7 separate regions of the Homo sapiens genome follow, and all the other regions are reported to be linked to region 1. The links are microRNA targets in miRTarBase. Many come from high-throughput screens and were not tested one by one. Region 1 holds a microRNA gene; each other region holds the end of a gene's coding sequence. Distances are between the middles of the regions.

What was found. The annotated mature microRNA hsa-miR-4729 reads UCAUUUAUCUGUUGGGAAGCUA and lies in region 1 at 1,726-1,747, shown strand. An mRNA with a match to its seed (bases 2 to 7 or 8) in the 3' UTR can be bound and repressed. Matches are read on the target gene's strand: a 7mer-m8 pairs with bases 2 to 8, a 7mer-A1 pairs with bases 2 to 7 and ends in A, and an 8mer does both.
Region 2: the mRNA of KCTD16 is a reported target of hsa-miR-4729. Seed matches in the 3' UTR shown: 7mer-A1 at 2,667-2,673 and 7mer-A1 at 2,256-2,262.
Region 3: miRTarBase lists SENP3 as a target of hsa-miR-4729. Seed matches in the 3' UTR shown: 7mer-m8 at 650-656 and 7mer-m8 at 1,058-1,064.
Region 4: miRTarBase lists RPF2 as a target of hsa-miR-4729. Seed matches in the 3' UTR shown: 7mer-A1 at 1,429-1,435.
Region 5: the mRNA of DUSP8 is a reported target of hsa-miR-4729. Seed matches in the 3' UTR shown: 7mer-m8 at 784-790.
Region 6: miRTarBase lists TRUB1 as a target of hsa-miR-4729. Seed matches in the 3' UTR shown: 7mer-m8 at 479-485, 7mer-A1 at 898-904, 7mer-A1 at 1,697-1,703 and 7mer-m8 at 2,582-2,588.
Region 7: the mRNA of TNRC6B is a reported target of hsa-miR-4729. The part of its 3' UTR that is shown has no 7-base or 8-base seed match.

Annotation. Positions count from the first base shown.
Region 1 is chr17:59,364,367-59,368,366 of GRCh38, forward strand. It overlaps MIR4729 (microRNA 4729), which reads left to right and starts at 1,717; the gene lies at 1,717-1,788. All of the region lies in intron 2 of YPEL2 (yippee like 2), which reads left to right. RefSeq lists enhancers at 1,286-2,055, 2,056-2,825 and a silencer at 3,382-3,676.
Region 2 is chr5:144,473,587-144,477,678 of GRCh38, reverse strand. It overlaps KCTD16 (potassium channel tetramerization domain containing 16), which reads right to left. Exons shown (of 4, transcript NM_020768.4): 4 at 1-4,019. The coding sequence ends at 3,565. Among named protein-coding and RNA genes, the nearest start is that of KCTD16, 300 kb to the right of the region's middle.
Region 3 is chr17:7,570,860-7,574,951 of GRCh38, forward strand. SENP3 (SUMO specific peptidase 3) reads left to right here. Exons shown (of 11, transcript NM_015670.6): 10 at 24-74; 11 at 514-1,110. The coding sequence ends at 624. EIF4A1 (eukaryotic translation initiation factor 4A1) reads left to right here and starts at 1,966. Exons shown (of 11, transcript NM_001416.4): 1 at 1,966-2,005; 2 at 3,401-3,449; 3 at 3,687-3,819. The coding sequence starts at 1,983. It overlaps SENP3-EIF4A1 (SENP3-EIF4A1 readthrough (NMD candidate)), which reads left to right. Exons shown (of 22, transcript NR_037926.1): 10 at 24-74; 11 at 514-620; 12 at 1,425-2,005; 13 at 3,401-3,449; 14 at 3,687-3,819. SNORA48 (small nucleolar RNA, H/ACA box 48) reads left to right here and starts at 3,854; the gene lies at 3,854-3,988. RefSeq lists enhancers at 1,304-1,363, 1,394-1,443, 1,464-1,523, 1,644-1,713, 2,220-2,975 and 2 more and silencers at 1,884-1,943, 1,954-2,013, 2,914-3,053.
Region 4 is chr6:111,024,803-111,028,802 of GRCh38, reverse strand. RPF2 (ribosome production factor 2 homolog) reads right to left here. Exons shown (of 10, transcript NM_032194.3): 10 at 540-3,400. The coding sequence ends at 3,221. Among named protein-coding and RNA genes, the nearest start is that of RPF2, 45 kb to the right of the region's middle.
Region 5 is chr11:1,553,165-1,557,256 of GRCh38, reverse strand. It overlaps DUSP8 (dual specificity phosphatase 8), which reads left to right. Exons shown (of 7, transcript NM_004420.3): 7 at 1-3,206. The coding sequence ends at 739. It overlaps LOC124902608, which reads left to right and starts at 1,777. Exons shown (of 2, transcript XM_047427956.1): 1 at 1,777-2,308; 2 at 2,577-2,650. The coding sequence starts at 1,777. The coding sequence ends at 2,650. RefSeq lists an enhancer at 1,093-1,890.
Region 6 is chr10:114,975,072-114,979,163 of GRCh38, forward strand. TRUB1 (TruB pseudouridine synthase family member 1) reads left to right here. Exons shown (of 8, transcript NM_139169.5): 8 at 52-2,605. The coding sequence ends at 308. Among named protein-coding and RNA genes, the nearest start is that of LINC02626, 18 kb to the right of the region's middle.
Region 7 is chr22:40,322,494-40,326,585 of GRCh38, reverse strand. It overlaps TNRC6B (trinucleotide repeat containing adaptor 6B), which reads right to left. Exons shown (of 23, transcript NM_001162501.2): 23 at 1-3,732. The coding sequence ends at 3,345. Among named protein-coding and RNA genes, the nearest start is that of ADSL, 22 kb to the left of the region's middle.

The DNA.
Region 1 (4,000 bases):
CGCTGTGATCTTGGGCAAGACTGTTCATCTCTCTGGCTCTCCCTTTTCTTCATTTATCCAAATGAGTGCAATAGGTTAGACTGTCTTTAAAGTTCCTTCTACTTCCCCCCTGCGTCTTCTGAGTCTAATGTAGTAGCATAAGATGATATGAGGCCATATAACATAGCAGCTCGTGGTATAACTCCGAGCCCAACCACCTGGCTTATTCATTTAGTAGCTGTGTACATTAAGTAATCCCTCTGTGTCTTTTTTTTTTTTTTTTTTTTTTTGAGACAGAGTCTCGCTCTATCACCCAGGCTGGAGTGCAATGGCACGATCTTAGCTCACTGCAACCTCCACCTCCCGAGTTGAAGCAATTCTCCTATTCAGCCTCCCAAGTAGCTGGATTACAGGTGCCTGCCACCACATCGGCTATTTATTTATTTATTTGTTTATTTCATTTTTTGTAGAAGATGGGGTTTCGCCATGTTGGCCAGGCTGATCTCGAACTCCTGACCTCAGGTGATCCACTGGCCTCGGCCTCCCAAAGTGCTGGGATTACGGGTATGAGCCACTGCGCCCATCCGCCTTTGCGTCTTAATGGCCTCACTGGCAAATGGGAATAATAGTAATATTAGATACCTGATAGGATTTTTGTGGAAATTAAATGAGGTTATTGATGTGAAGTTCTTACCACAGGGCCTGGCACGTGATAAGTGCTCAATAAATGTTGGAAGCTAGTGTTATTCTATGAATAGTCACTAAAGAAAACCAAATGGAAAGTGACAGAACTAGGGCCTGGCACCCCAACAAGCCTGGCACTCTTGCTTGTTGCCCTTGTTTTTGGAGAGTCTCAGCAGTTGCCCTTGAGCCCTACAGTTGTCATCTGTCGTCTTTTGAGGCCTCTCCTCATGGAATCGCTTGTTCCTTATCCCAGGGGGACCAGCAGGTCTCAGGAGGTGATGAAATAGCAGCAGCACCTTCCACCACAGCTTTCTGGGGCCTTACCTGCAGGCAGCAGCGAAGCCTCTCTAGAATGTAAATGGAAAAGCCTGTCCCTGCCTCCTTCCCTTTTAGTCTGTCAGGTGGTTACTGTGCCTCTGACCCACCCGAGGACCTCAGTTGGCTGTGACACAGCAGCCCAGGCGGCTGGAAGAGAAGTCCCTGGCCTGGAGAGTGAAGCTGGAGCTGAGAGTTGCTTGTCAGTTTGATTCCTTCTGTGACACTTCGGGTGGGGGGGAATCTTTTGAAAGAAACCACTTTCTTTATCTTGAAAGAACAAAACCAAAAGAGAATCTCTGATAACCTTTGTTTCCAAAGCACTCAGCAAAGCTGCTGAGAGGAGGGTTTGACCTGGTGACCCAGAGTATTATCTCTGGGGTAAGGGCTGCCCAGCCAAGGGGAGCTTTAGCTGTTTCCCTCCTCTCCCTGGCTTATTGCTGGTGGCTGGACAGTGAGTTGGAGGAGGAGGGGGAGAGGAAGAGAGGAGGAGATGGCTCTGCCAGCTGCCGCTAGAAACAACAACATCTAATCAGTCCATAAACTCCCTCCCCTCCAGACTACAGTGATGTCAAGAGGTGGAGCAGGTGGCACTAGTTCTCCCCTCCCCTTTAGCCCCTGACACCTTTGGGTCTTTGAAGGGGTAAATTATGATCATCAAAAGGAAAATTCTCTATCTTTGGGGGCCCAGGAGCTCCTTTTCCTTCTTGTTAGGGTTGGCTCCACCAAGAGCAATTTTCTGTTTCCTCATTTATCTGTTGGGAAGCTAACTGTGACCTTAGCGTCCCAGCAGATAAATGAGGAAACAGAAAAGTGTTTCCTCACCAAAACAAAAAATCCCTGAGCAAACCCTCCTGCAGAGGGCCCTGTCATTTATTCCACATTGTGTGAGCTCCTCTTACGTGTTAGACCCTGGGAATTACAGTGGCAAACAGATGCAAGCTTTGCCTTCACTGAGCCTGTCACACGGTACCCTTTGGTTCCTGGAAGACCCAGCACCTGAAAAAGCGGTTGGTGGCAGCAGCAACAAGGATCTCCTTCCTGAGCCTGGCCCCTAAGGTTATCCGGGGCAGCTGAAAAACCAGCATTTCCATAGTGCTTTCCATTCAGTTTGCCTAATTTTCATGAGAGGCTGAAGTGCCTTTTGTTTCCCTGATGGTCCCTGTCCTCCCCTGCAGAGTCGGCCTGAGCTAGCCCAGCCGAGTCGGGCAGCCCCTTGTTCTCTGATGCATCTTTGGAGGAATGTCTGTATTCTCAGGACCAGGCCTCTCCCCACTGGGTGGGGGCTGCTTTGTTTACATTCCTGACCTTCTGAAAGCTGCCAGCTTTATCCACAGCTGGCCTTTCCCCTTCAGATGCCAAATGTTCCAAACGACAGGTACAACTCTGAGAGGGCCGTTAAGGTTCATGCCAGAAACATTCACCTAGGAAGCCTGAGGAGAGAGGAAGCCAGTGAAACTAGACTTCATGGAGCTTTTTGAAGCTCGAAGCCCCCATATTTCTTGATTCTTCCCGCAGCGGGAGAAAAAAAGAAAAAACACAAAGTGTGTCTGTGTGGGAGGAGAGTTCCTCCCTGTCCATCTCTTTCTCTATAAAAACAAGAGGCCAACCTGCTCTGAGCATCGTGGGGGCAGGTGCTGGGTAAATACACGAGAAAGGAAAGCCAATAAGATAAGGTCTGACAAATCTAGGTCACCCGGCTGCTGCCAGGTACCTGTGTGACTGGCCACCTTGAAACTGACAGGAGGAGTATGGACTTTTGTTCGAGGCTCAGCCTGGCTGATTTCTCATGTCTTTGTTTATTTATTCAGTAAACATTAATTGAGTGCCATTATGTGCCAGGCCATGTGCTAGGTGTTGCAGGTCCCTGTGTGCCTCTGACAGGCAAAATCTCCTCCTGGATCCCAGGCCTGTAACCAGGGCTAAAAAAAGAAATGACTTCATTCAAAAGCCAGTTGGTTCACTAACTTCCAGAGTAGGGGCAGCCAGTCCCTTGGTAGAAGGGAGGGGCTGTTTGCAGTCTTGATTCCCTGTTTTTTGGGCTAGATCCAAAGGTCTGCAAAACTTTTTCTATAAAGGCCAGATAGTATTTTACGCTTTGCTGGACATAGGGTCTCCACTCAAATCTGCAGCCACAGAGAATATATAAACAAATGAGCATGGATGTTTTCCAGAAAAACTTTATTTGCAAAACAGGTGAAAGGCCCAATTAGGCCCTTGGACTGGTTTACTTAACCCTAGGTAAGATGATTAGAATGACTGTTGTGAAATGGGTGTTGGAGAAATAGGTTTCTGTGATTTCAAGAGGAATCTCAAACCAGCATGGTGGCTTGTATGAAGAGTGTAGGGGTTGAGGCACTGTGCTAATTGACAAGGTCTTAATTGACACCCTGGTGAGAATTCTATTCCATAGGCCAGACTTCAGCCCCAGCCGTCTAGCACCCACAGGTTCCCACCATAGGTTACAAGGTGATCAAGCCAGATAGGGCACATAGTTTCCTACAGTGTCATCACTGTAATGGGAAGACAGTGTGGGGCCCTGCTGAGGAGAGTCTGTGGCACCATTTGAAAAGCCTTGAATGAGGGTCAAGCCACCTCTGCTCCAGACCTGGCTTTGTGCTAAATTTTCAGTGTGGCATTGAGCAAGTCACTTAACCTCCCTCATCACCCTGCATATATTAAATCCTACTGTATGAAGCACTGGGGATACAGAAATGGATACAAATACAGAAATGGATGAAATTCTCTTTTTTTTTTGAGACAGAGTCTCACTCTGTTGCCCAGGCTAGAGTACAGAGGCATGATCACAACTCACTGCAGCCACAACTTCCCAGGCTCAGATGATCTTTTCACCTTAGTCTCCTGAGTAGCTGGGACTACAGACATGCGCCACCATGTCCGGCTAATTTTTCTATTTTTTGTAGAGATGAGGTTTCTCCATATTGCCCAGGGTGGTCTAAAATTCCTGGGCTCAAGTGATCAGCCCGCCTTGGCCTGCCAAAGTGCTGGGATTGCAGGCGTG
Region 2 (4,092 bases), not on the chromosome of region 1:
CATACATGCCTTCCTTTTGTCTCATTGTAACATGTTTTGTCTGACACCAACAAAGGATCCTCAGAGAAGAATCTAAAGCCCAGGAAAGCAAAAGTAATCCAGAAGCGCAGGCAGTAATGGGGCCCAGAACAAGCAACACACCTGTGCCTATGGATAAAGATTCCTCTGAATCTAACAAGGCTAATTGAAAAGAGAAAAATTCCATGTCAACATCCCTTAATAAATGTGTTCCCCCAAAATGAATTGGTTGGAATAGATACAACTATAAAGGAATAAAGAGCAAAGGGAACGCTTATTATTTGTGCATTGTTCCCCCTTTTATTTTAATTCACCATGCATGCATTTTCAGTAAGATAACTGTGCCTATAAATACAAAGGATAACATCAGTGCATATTTTGGAAGCCACTTCATTTCATTATTTTTTGTCAGCATTTCAGTGCAATTTTTTCCTAGCAGGGGAAAGAAAATCACAATACCATATGATCTAGTAGTTTTACATTCCTGTCTTCCCCTTTTCCTGCTGAATGCAGATCAGTTCATTTTTGATAGTGGGTAGAAGGACTTTGTAAATATGTTTCTGACTTCAGACAACCCACATACCTTTAGGGAATGATCTCCCAAAGCTCACTGGATTTTAGTATCGCGGGATTTCCCAGAAGGCAATCTAAGTTGGGGCTCTACACATGTGATTCCCCATTCATTGTATCCACTCAATACTACTAACTTCTTTATATTAGCAATTTATGGCCCTTGTCATAACCAATGTTCGAGAAGTAAACCATATATATTGTTTTCTTCAGAATTAAACAAAAAGTTCTAAAAACTATTTTAACTTCAGGGAAACATGCCCGAGTCACAGTGACTACCAGAGTTACTAGAGCATGTACTCTTATAACTCACTTACCCAGAACTCATTTCCAGTGTTGCAGGCTACCTGGACCTCACTTGATAACTCCACTCAAACTAGGTACTTTAAGCCTCCTCAGAGCCTTTTACTGGCCAGGTCTATGTTCATTTCTATATAAACACTCACACAAATAAATGCCATGCTGTTGTCTTAGTTACTTGAATATTTTACCATGGGATGAGTGCCAGTCGAGAGGTGGCCCAGAATAAAAATATTGCTGTTGTGATGGTTTTAAACAGGTTTTCTATTCCAGCTTTGTTCACTGGATGTATAAGGAATGTCAGAGCAGAGAAAACTCATGACAGGTCAGGGGTCAGAGGAACACTGCCACGAACACTCCTTTTGCAGTGTTTAATTTCCTGTTTAAAGAATGTAGTAGAAATATTGGGTTGACTATCATCTTAATTCTTTACTCTTATAAGGGTATCTCTCTATCTTGAGGCCATTACAGTCAGGTCTGAAATTTAAGGAAGTTGGAACTTTGGCCATTTTAGTTAGACCCCCAAAGTCTTTGACAGTACTTCCAGTGACAACACAATAATCATTTGACCAAAGTGAGTTTCAGGATATTTTCCCCAAATTCAACTTCTTGACCCATTAAGCTCTGTGATTCTTTGCAAGATCTTCTGTTATTAGGATGATGGTATTGCCATGTGCTATCAAGAAACATTGAAAAGAATCAAGACATACTGGTAAGTTTACAAACAAAGCTATGTTGTAGTTAAGACCAAATATCTGCTAATATATTAATACAGAAAAGAATACCACTTAAATTCATAAATTATAATTCTCTTGACAACTCAACTCCCAAGATAAACTTTCTTTTTCACTTATGTAAAACTTTCAACTCCATTCAAACCTTCAGGACAAGGAAACATTAGCTGAGTCTGTCATCCTAGTGTGAAGGCGAGAATTACAAAAATTCAGAAAGATATTCATATACTAATCATCACTAAGAACAGAAATCAAGACAGAACATCTTACATAATAAATGTGCATCAATGAAAGATTTCAAAAGGAAGAAATTAGTCATTGTTTTCCTCCTACAGATATCATCCAATTGCCTTTATTACCTGTGATACACATACACACATGCACACACACGCAATAAAACAAATTAGGAGTGCTTGGCACACAACTATTAATTGACAAATTATTTTTTGGTTACCACTGAAATGCATGAGGAATGCTGAAAATAAAACTGGTCTTTTAACCTTCTTGTAGCACAAGTCTATGAAAGAGCTATTGGTACCTTAGTAAAATACAGAGTTACATGGACGGATGGCTATTAACAGTTTCTTTTTGGCTGTGTCTATACAAGTCAGGATGTAATTGAAAAAGATAGTTTCATTTAGAAATCTGAAACCTTAACTCTGGAGCTTCAGTTACCTTGTTGGGTTGTTACAGACATCATAAAAATGACACAGCTAAATCCTAGCATGGGCACAGCCAAAGCCCGAATCCCAAAGGCAAACAAAAACGGCTACAAGCAAGTAAAAATGTAGCTTTGTAGTTTAAAATTTTTATAAGAAATTATTAGGTTGTGTGTGGAATACAACTTTCTCTAAAACAAACAAAAGGCCGGACCCTTATTCAAGTACTGTGTGTTGTCCTTAGTTCCACAACAACACAGGAACACAGAACTTAATGTGGATTATGTGGAAAGGCCACACCATTAAACTGTGGGCAGTAAGAACTCTGAAAACATGGAGAAAAGGGTGATAATTCAGTTCAGGGTAGAGAAGGCTGAGTGTGGAGTCATTTAGCAGAAAATTTTGTGGATATGAATGTTTGATTTTTTTAACACAAGGAATGTTTGACCAGCTCTCCTCATCCTCTCTTAATGCAGACAAAGAGCAAAGCAGTAAAATGGAGCCTGAGGGTATTAATTTCACAATAAGGAATACAATTTGTTGATGATGAGAGTCATTTGATGTTAGAAAGTGTTGTGAAGAAAGGCTGGGAAATCTTCCCAAAAGAATTTTAAGAAAGAGTCAGAAGCTCATCCATCTGAAATATTCTAAGAGAGGGCTGCTGGGAGCAGGAGCACAGCCCTTGGGAGGTCTAGGCCCTGGCATCGTGTGCGTCATGTGTATATACATACTTAGTTGTGCTTGTGTTGCACAAATACTCATGCATACGGAGTCAATATAAACTGGCACATATAGATTTGAGTGAAAAGTCATATAAATCTGCCATTCCCCCCAACCCCATAAACAAAAGGAAAAACCAAAATTAAAAATTCCAAACTTATGCCATTGGGCCAGATCTTTTTCTACCATACCCTCATTCAAAGGAGGGAGGTAGAAGGATGAGAGAAAAAACCCAGTTTGGGATAAATGACTCCCAAGGCCTCTCAGCTACTTTTACGTAGCTGGCTCTCATTATATATAAGATAGTTAGCACATGGGACGAAGTAAACAAACAAATAACTAAAAAAGATTTTCTTGTACTTCCACATCTAGAAAGAAATCTACCCTGTGGATTTACATGTTAAGGTGAACTAGGTAAAGTAGGCAGTAGTATATCAATGGACTATTGTGTTCTAAGAAATGTGCATCATTAGTTGTATTTTTTTCCTTTAAAATATGAATTCCTTTTAGGAGGTTAATTTCAAAATGACTTTTTTTTTTCTTTTCCCGCCCCCAGCCCTCCCTTATAGATGATACTTCCTTAAAAGTTCAGATTGCCAAGGATGTTTTCTCTCAGGAAACCGATCTGGAATTTTGATTTTTAGGAAATCCTGGATACATTTCTCCAGCTCCTCCTCAATTGAGAGCTTTTCTTTAACAGCTTTTTTTTTGCTGCTCATGTTCGATTCCCTGGAGCCTGAAGTCAGAGTCCGGAGTAAGTCGCTTTTCCGCCGCATCTCTGACTGTTGGATCAGCTGGACAGGGCCCTTCTTGATGGGACGGTCCAGAGTCTGGATGTTGGTCTGGCGTGTCACGGGACCACAGATGACCGTCTCCTGGGGAGAGCTGGCCTCAGACTGGCTGTCGCAGCTAGATGTGGAGAGGTCATTGCAAGACGTGCCGCTCTCCCCTTCTTTGTCACCTTTGCCATTCTTGCAGCAGCAATCGCAGTGTGAGGGTGACCATCTGGAAGGCTCACCTGAAAAGAAAGCAAAGGACCCAAAGGATTAATGCCAGCCAGGTCAGTTGGAGTAGCAGTATAGCACTTGGAC
Region 3 (4,092 bases), 52 Mb from region 1:
CCTGCTTTCTTTCTCTTCTCTAGAATGTGGCCAGGCAGAATAATGACAGTGACTGTGGTGCTTTTGTGTTGCAGGTAAGCAGATGATGGGGCCACCTCCCCTAGCTCTGAAGTCAGTTGGGTTAAAGGGTCGGGAGGCTGTTATGCATCCCCTCATTTGGCTCATAGTCAGTTGTGGAGCAGGAAGTAATCTGTTTTAGAACACCAAAACACTGGCTTCACTGGTTCTCTTCTGGACTTCTCCATCCCACATTGGGACTGGGTCTCTAGTCTTGGGCCTCTGGCCTTCATAGAGCTCCCTGCTAACCTCCAACTCAGTGTATTTTCTCCATCTAAAACATTCTATCAAGTAAGAACACTAGCTTTAGAGTCAGGCTGTTTTTGAACCCCAGGCTGTGGGACCCTGGCTCCCTTTGGGGATGTTCTCTGAAGGATGGAGACACATCTCATATGAAATGTGTAGCACAGGTCCTGACACGGGGGGTTTCTCATGGCTTGCTTTGTTAACACCCAGTACTGCAAGCATCTGGCCCTGTCTCAGCCATTCAGCTTCACCCAGCAGGACATGCCCAAACTTCGTCGGCAGATCTACAAGGAGCTGTGTCACTGCAAACTCACTGTGTGAGCCTCGTACCCCAGACCCCAAGCCCATAAATGGGAAGGGAGACATGGGAGTCCCTTCCCAAGAAACTCCAGTTCCTTTCCTCTCTTGCCTCTTCCCACTCACTTCCCTTTGGTTTTTCATATTTAAATGTTTCAATTTCTGTATTTTTTTTTCTTTGAGAGAATACTTGTTGATTTCTGATGTGCAGGGGGTGGCTACAGAAAAGCCCCTTTCTTCCTCTGTTTGCAGGGGAGTGTGGCCCTGTGGCCTGGGTGGAGCAGTCATCCTCCCCCTTCCCCGTGCAGGGAGCAGGAAATCAGTGCTGGGGGTGGTGGGCGGACAATAGGATCACTGCCTGCCAGATCTTCAAACTTTTATATATATATATATATATATATATATATATATATATATATATATATATATATATATATATATATATATATAAAAATATATAAATGCCACGGTCCTGCTCTGGTCAATAAAGGATCCTTTGTTGATACGTAAGTGGTGGTCTTCCTTAAGGGGCTTCAAATTAGTGGATATGCTTAGCTCAGACCTTCCAGCCAGTCTCTTGAGACTAAAGGGTTCAGCTTTCCATCCCTGGCTCAGGCACTGCCAACACCTTGTCTTCACCCAAACAAATCCCCGAGATGGGAGCAGAGAGCAGGAAGGAGGGAAAGTAGATAAGCCTCAAGAATAAGGGCATCCGAGAGGGAAGCTGGGGAACTGGACACAAGGGACTGGGGAGGGGACCAACCAGGATTCATGATAGTACCCCAAAGCCCTTTACAGTTTTCTTCCATCCCTCCACCATCCAGCCAGGGGAATCCTCCCATCCCTACGATATCGCTGTTGATTCCTTCATCCCTGGCACACGTCCAGGCAGTGTCGAATCCATCTCTGCTACAGGGGAAAACAAATAACATTTGAGTCCAGTGGAGACCGGGAGCAGAAGTAAAGGGAAGTGATAACCCCCAGAGCCCGGAAGCCTCTGGAGGCTGAGACCTCGCCCCCCTTGCGTGATAGGGCCTACGGAGCCACATGACCAAGGCACTGTCGCCTCCGCACGTGTGAGAGTGCAGGGCCCCAAGATGGCTGCCAGGCCTCGAGGCCTGACTCTTCTATGTCACTTCCGTACCGGCGAGAAAGGCGGGCCCTCCAGCCAATGAGGCTGCGGGGCGGGCCTTCACCTTGATAGGCACTCGAGTTATCCAATGGTGCCTGCGGGCCGGAGCGACTAGGAACTAACGTCATGCCGAGTTGCTGAGCGCCGGCAGGCGGGGCCGGGGCGGCCAAACCAATGCGATGGCCGGGGCGGAGTCGGGCGCTCTATAAGTTGTCGATAGGCGGGCACTCCGCCCTAGTTTCTAAGGATCATGTCTGCGAGCCAGGATTCCCGGTAAGAAAGGCATTTGCAAGAGATTGTGGCTGCTTATTTTGCCGCCCCCTTCCGACGGGCCCGCCGGGGGTAGCTGAGAGGCCCACCAGGGTTGCGGGAGAAACCGAACCGGGTGGGGGGAGGGTCCGACTTGGAGGGGCGAGGGGGAAGACCCACGGCCGACGCGGCCACCAGGTCGAGGCGGAGGGTAGGGACAGCCCGGCTAGGGTCAGGCGTGCGAGGTCTGTTACGAGGCCTCGACCCGAGGCGGTGCCATGCGCGAAGCCCCGGCGCTGAGTGGCGAGACGGGGTCGCGACCTGGCGTGGGAAAGAAAGGTGGAGGCGGCCGCCACTATGTGTGGCCCAGAGCCGGCAGGTCCGGTTGCCTCCCTGTGCCGGGGGAGGGACGGCGCGCGGGGTTCCGGAGCATTCTGACGGTACCACTCGCGAGAGGCGGGGGTGCCTGGTCCTTAGATCCAGTCACTTCGTCGCGGCTAAAACACGGGTCGGGGAGAAGAAACCGGCCGTTCAGTGTGCTGGTTTTCTTGACGGCCAGGACTGAGCCTAACCCCGAGGAGCGGCCGCGTGAGGCACCAGGAGCCCACCCGGCGCCGGGCGGGCGGGTCCATTTTGCCGCACAAGCCGGGCTATTGGCAAACTGCGGATGGGCAGGTCCACCTTCCTTCGGGGGTGAGCGGCCTGAGGTATGGGAGGGCGACGCTACTTCGCGACGGGGGCGGGCGGGATGTGGATTGTTCATGGAGGGGTGGGAGACGCCGCCGGGTGGTCGAGGGAGCGAGCACATGGTGGCCTGAGGCGTTCCCCTCCCCCAGTCTGCTTCGCTTCTAAGTGTTGTGCAATCTCCCCCTTTGCTAGCTCGGCTTGGGCTCATTGTGCGCGAGGCCGCCACCGCCCGCGGCCTCCCACATCCGGGCAACGCGAGGGGGGGGCTTCGGCTGGAGGGAGTGGGGGAGGGCGCGGGCGGGATGACGTGGGGGGAAGGGGATGTCCTACCCTCCGATCTGGGAGGTGAAGGGCGGGACTTCCAGCGCGCTGGTGCTGCGGTGGGAGGTGCACGCGCTTGGGCTTTAAGCGGCTGGGTCGGGCCCACGTGGACCCGGCGGCAAGCACCACCTCTGGGCACCGTGAGCGCGGCGGCACGCCTGCCGGCCTGTCTTCAGAAAGGGTCACCCCCTTATGTCGGGGGTGGCCTGGCCTGAGCCGCTGCCTGCATGGGGCAAATGCCTCAGTTTTATAGAAACTCCTCCTTTGGGTATTTTTTGGGAGCTGGTGGGAGTTGGATCTGGGACAGCAGATTGATGGCATCATGCAGGCCACTCCTGACAGAGCCCGGCTGTCAGGATTTCTGAGTGCTTCGGTCGGGCAGGGGACAAAACTTATGCTTTAAACCAACAGATCCAGAGACAATGGCCCCGATGGGATGGAGCCCGAAGGCGTCATCGAGGTGAGACTGGAGAAATGGAATTCTGTCCTCCCCCATTACAACTTTCAGCCGTATAGAGTTAGAGTGGCCTCTTGATTGATTTCCCAGATCATCTAGAAGCAGCTGGTTTCCCTAAAGGGAGGAGGGTTGTAAGCTCTGAGGCTTTTGTTAGTAGGCACCAGATTCTGTTTGCTCGGAGACTACAGCTCAGCTCCACCTTTTCCATGACTCAAGCTTTAATTTCTTTGCATCCCCTAGAGTAACTGGAATGAGATTGTTGACAGCTTTGATGACATGAACCTCTCGGAGTCCCTTCTCCGTGGCATCTACGCGTATGGTTTTGAGAAGCCCTCTGCCATCCAGCAGCGAGCCATTCTACCTTGTATCAAGGGTGAGACCTCTCAGTCCCAGAAGACATTGTGGACTGTCCCTGACCTGGGTAGAGTGGCATCTGGTTGGTGATGCCCATCTCATATCAGCCAGGGACAAAGCAACTCCTTGTTCATCCCAGCTTGGCTTTTGATCCGTGCCCATGCCTGGTTCATGCCTTGGACACATAGGTTTCCTTTAAAGAGGTGGTATTGTAGCCAGCTTATATTTGCATCTACAGCCATGTTTCTAGTCCAGCTTGGTGTGCAATACTAGATGAGTTAATAACTGGTCC
Region 4 (4,000 bases), not on the chromosome of region 1:
TAACATGGTCTAACTGGCACACTCTGAATGATACGAGAAACACAATGACATCCTTGCTGTTTTTAAACTTGAGCAACTCGAGTTGTTGATATGAGAGACAAACAACATCTAAATGCAAGCTGACTTTCTTTTCACAGCTAGCATATACCTCAAGTAAGCAAGCCCATTTCATCTTCTTTTTCAGAATAGCTTCTTTCAATGAATATCAAACAGTATTCTCTACAATTTCATAATGTATATACGCTAGGATGCATTTGTCTTAAATGCAGTTATGTTTTGACTATTTCTAAGTAAAAGTGCATTAAAAACATAATGAAGCTCGTATTTTTTGCACTGTCTCTTAATTTTATGGTGGACAAAGCACCAATTTCTGAAATTCAATAAAAGCAAACCTTCCTTTGTTGTTCGGATCTTAGCAATGGGTTTAGTAGTTTTAACTTCTTCCATTTTGAAGCCTTCCATTTTTAGCCTTAAGTAGCTAGACATAAAAAGGAAAGGAAGGAGAGATCATGTAAGTAGCTAATCAGATAAATGAAAACTGACTTGAAGTTAAGTTTTATTAGCCCTTTCTTTTCTTGAATTGAGTAATAACATCTCTACTTTGGATTATGTTCAATAACCAAGAAAACAAACAGCACTTAATTTTAAAAAAACAAAAAAAAAGAAACCCAAATTCCATGAAATAATAGCTTGGTAATAGTATTAATATTCCAGAAAAAATATAAGAAATTTGGTATTTAAAACAAAACAAATAACCAAAATGCTTTCCTCATCTACCAAAACCCAACATTAAGTAAAACTTAAAACAGGCAATTTACCACCTCCATTGAAATGAATACATAGTCTCCAATTTATGTGTGTTGTATTCTAAAGTAAGGACAACTGAAAATCAAGATGTGCTCTCCACAAAAAGTGATATAAATGGCAGCTCAAGAGTTCCAGATAGTACAACACTACAAGGTGTTCTCAACAAAAAGTCTTTGTTAGACTTCAATAATACTATTTGGTACTTCTATCAGCAAATAGGAAGCATTCCAATACTTATTAGATCCTCTACCATCAGACACAGAAATTACCTAGAAAACAGAAATGTATTGCCAAATCTCAAACAAGAGGGCTGATTAAAACAAACAAAAACACCCTTAAGACGTCTCACATACAGAAATCATGGCCATCTTTGGGTTAAGATTGGCTGATTTTCCAGTAGTGCTGGGGTAGGTCTTCCTGATAGAGGGGTCCAGGCATGGCAGGGTCCCGTAAGCGGCTGGTGAGGAGGACCCACTGCTTTGCCTCCTACCAGTGATGAGCGAGGCTTTGGGGAAGGACTATGCGTCCATCACTCCTGATGTTCTTTTCATGGCTCCCCTTCTCAGCTATTGTCCATCTACCTCCAGATGGCAGCAAACGACTTATCTGAGCCCCTTCTTCTCATTTAGATATAAAGTGCAAATGTCTGATTCAGGTACGAGACTGTATGGTCTTTGGTTAAACGTATAATCAAACAAAAAGTATAAATGATACCAGCTCCTTCATTTTTCTGGCAAGAGGAGAGTAACAGCTATCCGGAGAGGACTAGGGAAAGCTAAGGAATGGATTCAAAAGAGAAGGGAAAGGGTAGAAGGTAAAGCTGAGGCTCGAACTTTTGCTTAGTGCCAGCATTGTTGATCTGTAGCTGAGCAAGCTTACATAAAGGCATGTATACACAGGCACGGAGCTCTCTAACATGGAATTGAAGTGAAACCCTGTCTCTACAAAAAATCAGCCAGGCGTGGTGGTGGGTGCCTGTAATCCCAGCTACTCGGGAGGCTGAGGCAGAAGAATGCTTGAACCTGGGAGGTGGAGGTTGCAGTGAACTGAAATCGCGCCACTGCACTCCAGCCTGAGCGACAGAGCGAGACTCTGTCTCAAAAAACAACAAAAAAGAAAGCACTGGTACTTCATGTAACAAATTATGATTTGCGTATGTCTGTACCTTTACAACATTACTGGCACTTGTATAAAGGAGATTCCTTGTCAAGGACTGAATCAAGGAACTTAACACCCTATTCCAGAAAAACAAGTATGCAATACTAGTAGAAGGAAGAAGAAAGCTTCTGTTTTCCTAGGCACAAGGCCTGTCTTCAAGAAACTTTCAAAACAAGTAGTTAGGCTTTGGCTGGCTTCTACACCATCTGCAAACGCCCAGGGCCTTCATGCAACCTTTAGCTACCTAGGGCTACCCAGTACCCTAAAGTGCCCTGCACCTTAAAACTCACCTGTTTTCTCCTTTTTCATTTCTGCCCCTATCAAAACTTCTTTTCTGCCAGGTGCAGTGGACCAACATCTGTAGTTCCGGCTGCTCAGGAAGGTGAAGTGGGAGGATCACTTGAGCCCAGGAATTTGAGTCCAGCCTGGGCAACACAGCAAGACCTCATTGCTTTAAAAAAAAAAAGTAGGGCTCAGTGGCTCATGCCTGTAATCCCAGCTACGTAAGAGGCTCAGGCAGGAGGATTACTTGAGCCCAGGAGTTCAGGGCTGCAGTGAGCTGTGATTGTGCCACTGCACTCCACCCTAGGTGACAGAACAAGACCCCATCTCTTAAAAACAAACCAACCAAAAAACACAGGTTTCGTCTCAGAGAAGCGGGGTGGGCTCTACTTAGTAGTAGAGTCTCTTAAAACAATCAACAGTAGTGTAATTTATCAATAATCAGATAGCAGACATCCCTCTCAGAGATCTATATATTTTCAGCCACAAAGCTTAAAATCTCAAATGTCAACGAGTAGGATTTCAGGCAAAATAAAAGTAGAAAATAAAAATCAGAATGTAGATCCATGTTGGGAGAGGAGGTTAACTTTCCAGGTAATTCATACTGAGATTGTTTACACAGCTCCTGCGGGTCCGGCTTTCTGTGGCTTTCTTTAGCTAAGGCCAGAAATTCAAAAAAATCCCAATGGTTATGGAGATCCCTCCTCACCCATCCATCCACCCAATGAGAAAGAAGAATTTGTGGAGGGCAGGGGATATCACAAGAGAAAATGGCACACCAGGGTGTAATGTCTCAAATAAAAGGCTTACTTTACACTTAATACTAGTATATTACTGTTCATAATAATATATCGTAAAATTATCATGTTATAAAAATATATAATAAGATCTTATAAGAAACTCTGAATGGATTGACGCTTGATAATTCTCTTAAGTAGAACACAATGAAACAGTAGTGGCTGGCTAAGTTCCATCAATTTTTTTTAATTCTTTTTGACTTTTTCTCGTGGTCTTCTGTTATCCTTTCTGCAGGTCGCTTCTTCAACCCCTTCATTTTCCTGGTTTGTAGTTTGCTTAGGTCTTGCTTCTGCATATGAATCCTTCCATAAGTTGTACCAAAAGTATCATGGGAAATATTTTTCTTCTTCTTTGGCTACGATAAAAGAATATGTATATATTTAATGGCCTTCTACTATAATGAGCCAGTAAAAATCTAGTCTGTAACAACTATCTTAGTAGCAATTTCCATTAGTGCCTGCCCCTTCAGTGACACAGTATATAGCCCTATACACTTTTCTTCTCAAACTTAAGTGTGCATACAAATCACTTGGGATCTTGCTAAAATACAGATCCTAATTCAGTATGTCTAGGGTAGGGCCTGATATTCTGCACAATTCCCAGGTAAACTGTCAGGCCACACTTTGAAAAACAAAACTATAAACTACACTAACCACTGTCACACATCAAGAAAATAGCCTGTGTTTAGCTTAAGAAGTTGTGACTATTGTTTCAATTTCTATTGGCATTTTAGAGATTACATTTCTTCTTGTCTTTTAAAACTACTTAAAAAGTCAAAACACATTTTATGCACATATGGTTTATATACCCTGTACTCTAAATCCTTAGCCTTTACAGTGTACCAAACAACTCTCTTTCTTTTGCTGAAAACAACAGTCTTGACTATCAGAAGGCACTTAGCCAAACCTCATGTCTGGGTTTTGCAACTCTTTTTTTATTATCCCTTATTGTTGGC
Region 5 (4,092 bases), not on the chromosome of region 1:
CTCGGACCGCCTGCAGGACACTAACCGCCTCAAGCGCTCCTTCTCCCTGGACATCAAGTCTGCCTACGCCCCTAGCAGGCGGCCCGACGGCCCCGGGCCCCCCGACCCCGGCGAGGCCCCGAAGCTCTGCAAGCTGGACAGCCCGTCGGGGGCCGCGCTGGGCCTGTCCTCGCCCAGCCCGGACAGCCCGGACGCCGCGCCTGAGGCGCGCCCACGGCCCCGCCGGCGGCCCCGGCCCCCCGCCGGCTCCCCCGCGCGCTCCCCCGCGCACAGCCTCGGCCTGAACTTCGGCGATGCGGCCCGGCAGACTCCGCGGCACGGCCTCTCGGCCCTGTCGGCGCCCGGGCTGCCCGGCCCTGGCCAGCCGGCCGGCCCCGGGGCCTGGGCACCGCCGCTCGACTCCCCAGGCACGCCGTCGCCCGACGGGCCCTGGTGCTTCAGCCCCGAGGGCGCACAGGGGGCGGGCGGGGTGCTGTTTGCGCCCTTCGGCCGGGCGGGCGCCCCGGGACCAGGCGGCGGCAGCGACCTGCGGCGGCGGGAGGCAGCGAGGGCTGAGCCCCGGGACGCGCGGACCGGCTGGCCCGAGGAGCCGGCCCCGGAGACGCAGTTCAAGCGCCGCAGCTGCCAGATGGAGTTCGAGGAGGGCATGGTGGAGGGGCGCGCGCGCGGCGAGGAGCTGGCCGCCCTGGGCAAGCAGGCGAGCTTCTCGGGCAGCGTGGAGGTCATCGAGGTGTCCTGACCCCTCCGCTGCCCTCGGCCCCGCCGCCCGCAGCCAGGCCCGTTATAAATGTATATTATATATAATGCAAAGAAAGGTAAATGGTTTTACTGGGATTTTTATCGAGAAGTAAATATTTCGATTTTTTATTTATTTAAGCTGTTCATTCTGGCAATGATTTGGCAACAGTGCGGGTGGTCCTCGAGCTCTATTTTTACTGTCTGGTATTTAAACTGAAACATACGTTTCTAAGCAATACGAGGCCACCTTCAGTCGCAAGCTGGGTGCCAGGCCTGGGGCCCCTCCCAGTTCCCCCGCCCCAGGAAACACTGCTGACCTTTGCAAAGGCTGCCGAGCTTTCGTGCACTTTTTACATAACAAAAAGGTGAAAAAAAGGAAAAAAAAACTTCTTTGCCACAAACTGAGCCGCAGAACCCCCCTTCTCCCCCCACCCACCTCCCCTGCTCCCTCCCTTCTCTGCGCCGGCCTAGGGCTCTGCACCAAAGCCATAGGATGGAGGAGCAGGAGCTGGTGTGCCCCGGAGAGGTGCGGCCAGCCCTCCATCAGCTCCAGGCACCAAATCTTGGTGGCAAGGAGGGCACCCCGCTGCCCGTTGCCCCAGAGCTGTTCTCTGGCAGGGGAGGACAGGCATTGGGCTTCATGGTGCCAGGGTGTTCAGAGGGGCTGAGAAATAGAACAGTGTGTGTAGGGGCTTCGGGCAGGGGGTTCTGGAACGTCAGATGAGGTGCAGCCCAGGGGAGGACAGAGGTGTTAGTGCCCCCAACTCCTGCCAGAGCCCCAGTCCAGCCACAGAGTGGCTCAGAAAGGCCATTCCTAGAGGGCTGCGGCCCTCCCTTCTCCCTTGCCCATGCCCCCAGAGCTGCCTGCCGGGCAGGGTGGCACCATTGCAGGAGAGGAGCTTGGCCTCCGGGGGTCAGGCAGGAGGCGCCTGGCTAGCCAGTGCTGGCTCCACTGGGCAGGAAGCCCTGGACCCCCAGGTATGAGGAGGGGGTGGTCTTAGGGTTCTGTTCCAGGTCTGCCCCGCCCCCCTCCCAGCCATGCCCCAGGCAGAACTTGGAATTCAGGTGTGCACCTGCAGGCTGAGGGGCTCTGTGAGCAGGTGCTGCTCACACAGGGAGTTCAGGCGCCAGCCAAGCCCCTGTGCTGCTGGGATAGGCCTGCTTCACTTAGGGAGCACTGCCTCAAGACAGGTAAAGCCCCCTCGTTTGCCCCCACCCCCATGGGGCCGCTCAGGAGAGAAACTCCCATTCACCCCTTTCCCAGGGTGCTCTCTCTCTAGGTGGCATGCCAGCCCCCAAACACAAGTGGCTTTTGGGCCCAGGTGGGTCAGCCTGCTGCCCCTGCCCCATACCCCCTCGGGCCATTGGGACCCCTGCCCTTCAGATGTCCTAGGGTCTAGGAGTGGGGCCAGTCACTGTGGGAAGAGGCCAGGGGCTTGGCCGGAGAGGCAGCCCAGGGCAGGACCCAGTCCTGAGTCCTGGAGCAGGGCCAGGGAGGCGCCCATCCCGCCCCAGCCAGCCGCCCTCTCTGCTGTTTCTTCTATTTGTTCTTCTTTTCACCCACAGCTCTGTGTTCCTGTCATCCCTCCTTTCAGCAAAAGTCCTGTTCCCGTTCCCTCTGTCCCCACCCACTCCTGTTCCCCCAAGAAAATAAGCTATCGTTGTATTTGCAATCTATGGATTAGAGGTTTAAGTATTTATTATTATTGGTTAATTATTATTAATTATGTAAATTTGCCTCCCATATGTCTGTTGCGTTGGGTTTCTGAGGAGACCCTGGGTGAGGAGGATGCACTGGCTTCCCGCTTCTCGCCCCCCACCCCTGTGCTGTCCGGGAGACAGTGGTCTGGGGCCACTGGTTGGGCCCCCTTCTCCCTTCCCCCTTCCCCTTGTCCCTTCTGCAGGCCGTTGAGGGGGGCTGTCTGTCTCAGTCTGTCTCTGCTCCCACTCTTGAGGCACTGGTTACCGCAAAGTGAGCAGCCAGCAGGGGGGCGAAGGTCCTGTGTTGGCCACTGCCTCCTCCAGTGCTGCAGGAGGCGGGCTGAGGCCCCACCTGGTGGCTTTCACCTGACCCAGCCCTGAGTCCTCTCCAAGCCTCTCTCCGGCCCCTCCCACCTGGCCACTGCCTCCTCCAGTGCTGCGGGAGGCGGGCCAGGGCCCCACCTGGTGGCTTTCACCTGACCCAGCCCTGAGTCCTCTCCAAGCCTCTCTCCGGCCCCTCCCACCTGGCCACTGCCTGGCATTGGGATCGCCCCAAAATGGACCCGGCCCCTCCTGTTATTTGCTGGGAAGTCCAGCGGAGGAGAGGGTGCAGGTCCCCCGCTGAGCCTCCAGTCTCTGTAGACTGGGCTGCCGGCCCTTCAGCCCCCCTTGGAGCCCCTCCCGCCACAGCCGCACCTTCTGCTCCCGGCCCCTCCCTTTGTATTTGGAGACAATGTGTTGTAATAAAGCTTAAAGTGGATGTTTTCCCCACGACTCCGCGCCTCTTCCTTCAGACTGGTGGTGGGCAGGGTGGGGGCAGAGGCTGCTGGGAGGCAGGCCTGAGGCCAGAGCCTGGTGTGTTGGGTCTGGAAACTTGCCCCAGGCTCACACCGCGGGTGAGCTCTGAGAATAGTCCCTGGGGGCCAGGCATGGGCACAGGTCCTCAGCTGCACCTTTAGGGTGTAAAACACACTTTTTCAGTTGTTACAGGCTAGTAAAAGCTTAAATAACTTAAAACGATATAAAACCTCAGTGTTACCCACCAGTCCCCTCACTCCCACAATCCCAATGTGAACAGTTGGATGCTTCCCTCCCAGCCCCTCCATGTGTGCTGTGTGCTGTGTGCATGTGTGTGGGTGCATATACGTACCAGCAGAAATAGGGGTCTAGCTATATATAGTGTCTCCAACCAGACTTTTTTTTTTTTTTTTTTTGAAATGGAGTTTCGTTCTGTCATCTAGGCTGGAGTGCAATGGTGCGATCTCCGCTCACTGCAACCTCCGCCTCCCCGGTTCAAACAATTCTCATGCCTCAGATTCCCAAGTAGCTGGGATTACAGGCACGTGCCATCACACTTGGCTAATTTTTGTATTTTTAGTAGAGATGGGGTTGCACCATGTTGGCCAGGCTGGTCTCAATCTCACTGACCTCAAGTGATCCGCTTGCTTTGGCCTCCCAAAGTGCTGGGATTACAGGTGTGAGCCACCGTGCCTGGCCTCCAACCAGCTTTTCAAATCTTAAGTAATGTGCATGTCATACAAGGATTAAAAGCACACCAGGGTATGTGGTAGAAAGTACTGGTTTGTCTCCCCCAGGCTTGTCCCCAGCCTCCAGGGTCCTCTCCCTGGAGGCAGCCCCAGCCCGGCCTGCAGA
Region 6 (4,092 bases), not on the chromosome of region 1:
ATACTGAATCGTTTATCTTCTGGATTTTTTTTCTACCTTTTGTTGCCATAGAACTATCTTCCTGTGCCAATGTGCTAGAGCTGACCCGAACCAAACAGGGACCATTTACGCTAGAAGAACATGCCCTTCCTGAAGACAAATGGACAATTGATGACATTGCACAGTCTCTTGAGCATTGCTCATCTCTTTTCCCAGCAGAGTTGGCACTTAAAAAATCAAAACCTGAGTCTAATGAACAGGTTTTGAGCTGTGAATATATAACTCTAAATGAGCCAAAGAGAGAAGATGATGTAATTAAGACGTGTTGAGATTGGCCTGGGAATATCATCATTTTCTAGTTGACATTTGAATCCTGTGTGCAGATGCAGAATGACAAGCTGCATTCAAAAGACAAACAATATGTCTTTTTTTTTTTTGCATGAAGAAAAATGTCTATCATTTACAGTTTCAATAGCACATAATTTATTTTCTATGCATTATAAATGGCCTTGCAGTTGGCTCAGTTGTTTGTTGTGTTGTGAAATGTTTTAGGATTTTTTGTATTGTGAAAATATGAATATGATTGGATTCAGAAAAATTAACTTTCTGAATTTGATCTGTCTTCAGTCTTGTGAAAAAGTTGAACAAATTTCCTAATCAAAGAAAAAAGTATGAGCTCCATGTTTCTTTAGTTTCACAAAAATGACCATAATTTAGTGTTATTTTTACTTTATTTAGGCTTCCTGGTGGCTTCATTTTATTGAAATTCTTTAAATTGTTTAAAGTGGCCATTATTGATCTCTTTCTTCTGTTTTGGAGAGTTTATTATTAAAAACATTTCTTTGATAAAATGGCCATCATCTAGTAATACCTGTGTTTGTTTAGATCTTGGAAATGAATAAGCTTTGATAATATTTGTAAATGAACCAAATTATTACTGCTACCACTAACAGGTTGTAAATAGAAGACTAATACTTAATTAAAGTCACCTTCCTACCATTAGAGCAGAAGACAGCTCCTATAGTTTTGTATTTTGGCAGCTATGAGATATTTTCATGGTAATGTCAACATGGTCAAGCACTTTGTACCAAGTTATTAAGTAACATAATTTTTAAAATTTAAAGAATGTGTCTTCAACTAAAAACTTTATTCTTTAGCATTTATTTATATTTCTCTGTAGGGTGTTCCCTGTGACATTGTCTCTTTAGTTTGCTCTTTCAAGAGATACTTACAGATGTTGAGATGGCTGCCCTGCATTTCCAGCTAATCTCTTCTGCTCTAAATATTTAAAAACAGTTCTTCTCAAACATTTTCATTCAGATAGCTTTCTGAAAGTTCCCTATCCCTCTTTACCATAATTTTTTAAATGTAGCCACATTGTAATAGTAAACTTCATATATAATGAGTGCTTCATATTTTTGTTATGGGAAAGCAATATATTATGCAGCCAGTCTGTAGAAACATTCAGATCCCTCTTCCTTTACTCAAATACAGTTTCAAAAGGAAGACTCATGAGAAATTTCATAAAATACAAGTTTTTAGATGTTTATGCTTTGCCTTTCTTTTTAAAGGTGTTTTCCTGCTTTGTAGTCTCTAACTCTGAAATTTAAAATATGTAAACTAAAGTGGTTTTATTTGTGCTTAACCCAATTTAAACTCAATGTAAAATGTTATATATGCATCAGTACAGCATTTTCAACATATTGGCAACATATTTTAAATGAAAACACTAAAACAATTCTTAGTATGAGACAAAACTGTAAGGAAAAAGAGTGTTAATACCATGATGCATTAACATAAAATATCAAACACACAAAGTCATAAAATGAAAATTTACAGTTTTACCTGTTCATATCTAGTGCCCCACAGTGTGTGTCAACCAAAGGTGGCAGTGGCTACATCTGCCTGTTGGACTGGTACAGGTTACAATATGTCCTCTTCCATTGCAAATTAAAGTCCAAATAGAGAAATACTTAGGTTTTAGAACACATCAGAGGTATTTCTGCTGTATTTTTCACCTTAAAAATTGACACAGAGTTTACTAATAGAGGAGTAGAGATTGTTGACCATTTTTAAAAAACGATAGCCACTCTTTTTCTTTTATGTTTAAAACTGAAGTTTTGCCAAATGGGAAAATTACTGTTACCTCTACCATCTTAATGTAGTAACTTTAGAATTTAAATTTTTATATTACTATTTTCCTTTTTGTTGTTCACATAGTCTTAAGGCACCTATACTTTTAAATTGACTTTTTCATTTGATATTATCTATATGTATGTAGTTGTGATAATGATTATTTTAATTATATTACTTTATACTCTTAATTTATTTAGAGTATTTCTCTATTGCTGAATACTTAAGTAGTTTTAAATTTTATTATGATAAATTCCTGGGAGGGGGATTATTTAGTGAAATAATATGAAGAACTTTATGACTTATGTTTGCCTTATTGCATTCCCAAAGAGTTGTAACATTTTACAGTGTTACCATTTGAGTAGGGGTTTTATATGTTGTTGCTAATTTAGTAAACATAGGAGAGAAATCAAAGTTTTTCTGATTTGCTTTTATGTGATTTATCTGTATACTTTGTTCATTTATATAAATAAATGTCTTAATGGTTTCTATACATATTTGCATGAGTTATTTGTGTTGTAAATACCTGATAGAAGGATTTTTCACGGTCTGTTGTCCTTTTAGTTTTAATTTTCATTTTTGCTAACTAAATTTGCTAATTCTAATAACTCTTCCCCTTTTATCATTGTCAGATTAATAAGTATGAAAAATTTTAAATTTATTGAGACTTTAAAATCTTACTAACTCTCATAAGCAGTTGAAACTGAGATACTCTGAAAAGTTCAAGACTCATTCATAAAACAAATTAGTTTTCCCTGATAGTCTGGTATTTAAATACCAACTCAGTTTTTTTTTCATTTTTATCAAAATATTCAAGAAATTTCTGTGTCTTATATTTTTCTAGGTCTAAACCTTCATGACATGATAAAGTTGTTTTACTTGTAAGAAAACGATAAAAGATTTAAAAAATCCTGAAAATGTTTCAACCTGGAACATACCAAATCACTTCATTTTGACACTTTAAGTTTTTTATATTTGAAAAATAATGTCTTAAAAGTTGTTAAAAGTCATAGAATTATTTTATTTATAGTCTTAAAATCCAGGACCTTTATGTAATAGAAATTTGCTCTTTGCAAATTCAAAGTTTTGAAATGTGAATAAAGGCTAAACACAGTTTCCTCTACCTGTACTGACTAGATATTTTTTTCTTAAATACTTGAATTAAAACAAGCCATTGACTCATCATCAGAAATGAGTTACTGTATTAAATAAGAGTGCTTTGTATCAGATCTTCAGTACATTTTATGTCCCCTGACCAGTTTGAAATTTGTATCAGATTTACAATGAACATTTTGAGGTTCAATTAGATGGTGAATTGTTCTGTTTCAAAGAAAGTAAGTAATTTACCTTATATCATGATGTATACAATAGAAAGAGATGTGATTCAAAAGCACTGTAAAATGCCAAAACATTTAAATAGAGGAAACGATAATAGATATGAGGTTTATGCACTGAAATGAGTATAATGGCCTTGTAGTTAAATTTAAAGAGAGGGATTGTCTTGAAACCATTTCTTTCTCTAAGGTATGTATGGGCAGAGCTCTAGATTGTCCTAATTCTTCATTAAATACTATTTATTAAGCACATTTATTAAGGTGTTGAATCAGTAGTACCTTCATTTGTTAATGTGTGAGCTAAATTCTCTTTATGAATAGGAATATCTTCAGATTGCTGCTATAAATACTGATACCGGCCGGAAAGTTGAAGTTCGGGAATTATTTTGCTCTTCTTATCCTTAACCCTTAAAATGCAGCATATTAACTTTATTTCTGTCTTTACCGTTAGTCAACTTTTTGATCCTAGGTGAATCACTTAATCTCTTTAGGTCTCAAGTTTCCTTATCCTTACAACAAAGGAGACAGACTAGTCCATCTTGAAGAATCTCTCCAATGCTAAAATATTAGGCTTCCAAGTGTAGATAATTTGTGATTATTTTGCTTAGGAACTCATTCCTCATGAACTTGAACTTTTATATTTATC
Region 7 (4,092 bases), not on the chromosome of region 1:
GGGGAGATTTCAGTTCAGTCTCAAATGGAAAGGAACAAAGTGATGGCATTCTCATCTATATACACCAAACACTCTCCCATTAAACTACACACAATTTCAAAAGAATCCATGATCGAGCTCTTACAAAGCTTAATCCTTCTCCCATATTTTTAAGATAATGAATTTACCTGTTGCTGCTAAATTGATAATTTTTAAAAAATATTTCTATGTGTTTTAAAATGTGTGATCCCCAGTATGACAATAATGTTTGGAGACTTTTCTTTTTACATTTTTTTAAGTAAAAATTGTTTAAACTTTCTGAAGTTTCAGGAACTTGTAAAAGTTTATTAACAGGAAAGAAACAGCCATCTCTCTAGGATAAGATATGGTTAAATAAACCATCTTCAAAAAACTGGCTTCCTACCCTAGAATTCCTGAGAATGCTTGCAAATTTTAAAGCAGGAAAACAAATGTTAAAAACAGAAACAAAAAACACTGTTAAATGCTCCCAGAGTTAGTCTTCATCTAAAATATATATTTATATGTATATATATACGCACTTTTTGGTCTTTTTTTTTTAAAGTTTTTAGTTTTTTTCCCTTTAAGCTTATGATGGAAGAACATTTTAGCTTCTCATGTTTATTTTTACATATTTCAAATCCCTCATTATGTCTTGTAAACAAGAGGGGCTCTAGCACCCGGCTTTCACCGTAGTATCGTAAGGAACTCAACTAACCCATAGTGCAGGTCAAGGAACCAACAGGCAGGAGGAGAGGAGGGTGGGGCAGGACACAGCAGTGAACCAAGAGCGGCAGTGGACAGGGTCGCCACTGGCTCGCAGGAGCCTTGGGATATGCTCCTGGCCCAGGGACACTAAGATTTAACCTTCTCTAGATGTCTGAATACAAGCTGCTCTTCACCTGGTGGTCACCGCACGACAGCACTTTGCTCCACACAGAGAGCGGTCAGTGGGGGCTGCTGGAAGCAGAGCTTTTGCATGGGGAACAGTGGTGGAAGGGGCACGGTGGTGATTCAAATTGCAGAGCAGGAAGAGGGCATGCTCAAGGCACCCAGCGGGGCCACGTCAATGCTGCAGATGCCAAGTGTGACCACCTACCCACAGAGGGCTCATGCAGGCTTGTATATGTGAACACTCACTTGAGTCATGCCTGTCAATCTCTTTTGAGGCTAGGTTTATAATCAACAGGGTAAGCCAGAAGGGCTACAGAATTTCCCATTCTTTGTCTCACAAAACCACTGAAATGCAAATAACTTGTTTTAGGCTTTTCCTATACACACCCACCCACCCACCTACACACAGACACAAGCTAAAAAGTCAAATACATTAGGCATTGTTGTATTGTATCCTTCACTGAAGACGCTAAAGAAAGAAAAACTCCCTTGTCCTCAATAGCAGCAAGTTACAGAGGACAGTAGAGGTCTGCTCCCACCAAGGGTTGGAATGGGCAGGTATTTGCTGGTACAAAATGTCGGCACTTTATGTTAAACAGCATAATGCAGACTGGGATGTCCACACAAGTGCTAGCACGTCACCGGCATCCATCCCCCCACCCTATCTGGTTTTTCGCCCCCTTCAGGTCTGCTATAATTCTCTTCACAATAAGCAGTTTGATACATTTTGATTCCGACATAAGTACATACATGTTGGTGATAACTGTAGATTAAACGTTGACCCCTGTTCGGCCCAGAGTACTACTACATTGATGCTTAAAAAAAAAAAAAAGTATTTAAATACCGAAATTAAAAAAGCAAAATTACAAGGTGGGGGGAAGAGGTCAAAAATCAAAAAAAGGTGCAATACTTAAAAGTCTTCGCTAAGTTATACCTGCCTAAGCAAAACCACATACACAGGAAATACACAACACAGAGAAACAAAAGGAAACGCTTGAAGTACACACTGGTTTAAGAACATTCGTTAAGTAAACGTTTCTGTCAGTGATGGCCTGGTGCTGTAACGCGCCACGGCCTGGCACAGGTAACGCTCGGCGAGAAAGGAGCAGAGGGAGTAGCTGCAGATGCTTTCAGGAGGCTGCTCACCACTTATTCTTTTCTGTTTTCATAAAATGAAAAAGAGAACCAACCAACAGAAATATGTAACTCAACTTCACCTAATTTTTTGAAGAATTTCTCAAACCTGATCATAAGGAAAGAGGGAACAAAGTTTCTCTGTTTTTGAGACATCGCATCATCAAAAGTTATCTTCCGTTCCCATTTCAAACTAACGAAAAGGCCTGCATGAAACTTAACAGATACTCAGATGTGCCTGGTGGCCATTCACTTAAAAAAAAAAAAAAACAGAAATAAACACACCGTTGCTCCAAGAGGTACCTCCTGCTCTAGTTTTTTGGACTTGGCAGTGCTCCACTCTACTGCTAGGTCAAAAGAACAGCCAGAGAAACCCCACATTCAGGCTAAGTTGCAAATGGAAAGGAGCTCCCTGCTTTCATCATTAAAAAGCACTCTGTTCATCTTAATGCAGCCCAATGGAGTTGCTTTAGTAGCAGTGGCTCTCCGGGCCTGTGTGTTCTCATAGTTAAAAAAATAAAATAAAAAGCAGATGGGCCGGCCAGCCAGCCTGCAGACTGTCAGCGATGCAGCTTTCTGAGAAGTCAGGGTGGGGCAGGGGAGAAGGGAAGAACACAGGCACACACACAGAGACAGAGAAGGATGCACGCGAATGCACATGAACACACGTGCACACACACACCAGAACGAGCATGCCTGGGCAGTTACATGTGCCAGAACACACTGGTATTTATCAACCAGCCAATCACAAATTTTTTCCTTTTTTTTTTTTTTAGGTTTTTTGTGTTTTTGTTTTTAAAGTGAGGCTCCGTCAAGTCTTCCCTCCCCCCTCCCCCAACAATTCTTTTGAATTTCCCTCCCTCCCAAACATGGTAGACCTAAGGACGGAAACACACCCAGTGCAAACAAAGTTAAAAAGCTATTTTTTTTCAGTATATATGTTTCTTAGCAACAACTTCCATATAACATGAAAAAAGTGAAAAACTAGAAACTAATTTTTTTAATTTTTTTGTGTTTAAATTTAAATGGTATGTGTACTTGCTTCACATTGTCTTTCTAGGTTGGCGTTCATGATTCAAGTATTTCAAGAGTGATATGTTCTCTTTTTGGATTCATATTCCAAACGAAAAAACTGAAGTTATAAGGGAGGCAACTATGTGCTCAGACAGTCTGTCAATGACCCACCTTTTTTTCTCTCCGTTTTCTTTTTTCCTTTTAAAAATGTATTTATTGCAAGTTGAAAAAAAAAACGAAAAGGTCAAGTTAGTGCTGCTGCTGTTCCAAAAAAGGTCACGAGGTCAGAGTTGAAAGTTCTAAGTTCAGATTGAATCCGACCCTCCTCCCAGAAGGTCACCAGGTAGTAAAGGAGCAGGGCTGCCCATCCTATGGGGATCTTCCACCGTTGGGACTCCCCATAAGCTAGAAGAATAGTTTGGGGGCCCCCACAATGAAGCGCCAGCAAGATCGGCCCCGCTGCTGCCACCAGCGCTGCTGCTCCACTGCCCGAGCCCAGTGGACCCACCAAAAAGATTCAGAGCAGGTCCCACGGGATCTGACTGGTTCTGGCCGGTCTCCAGCGACTGCCACCCCGCAGCTGGCGCACTTGGGGTTGCTGCAGGTGTAGGGGGCTGAGCTTGTGCCAGAAAGCGGCTGACTTCATCATCAGTGGCAAACTCAGCAAGGATGGTAGTGTTTCCCAACACACACCTGGAAGAAGGGAGGGAAAGAGAGCTATGGATCTCAGGAAAATCCTAAAGCATACGGAGGGAGCGACTGCAGTCCTTGACATTCAATGTGCAGTCCTTTGACTAGAAGCTGCCATATCCATGAACGCTTTTTAGAATGCAAAGTCCAAGCTCCACCCAAGACCTCTGGGTCCAGAACTTGTATTTCAACCAGACCGCCAGGTAATTAAGAAGTAATGATGTAAACCAACAAGGCATCACCAAAACTCAGGATAACCAAGGACTACTAGAGAATACTATATTCTGATATTTCTTGGTGTATGGAATTTATATATTCTAGACAACTTAGCTATCAAGAAAAACGTGTGTGTCTGTGGGGGGC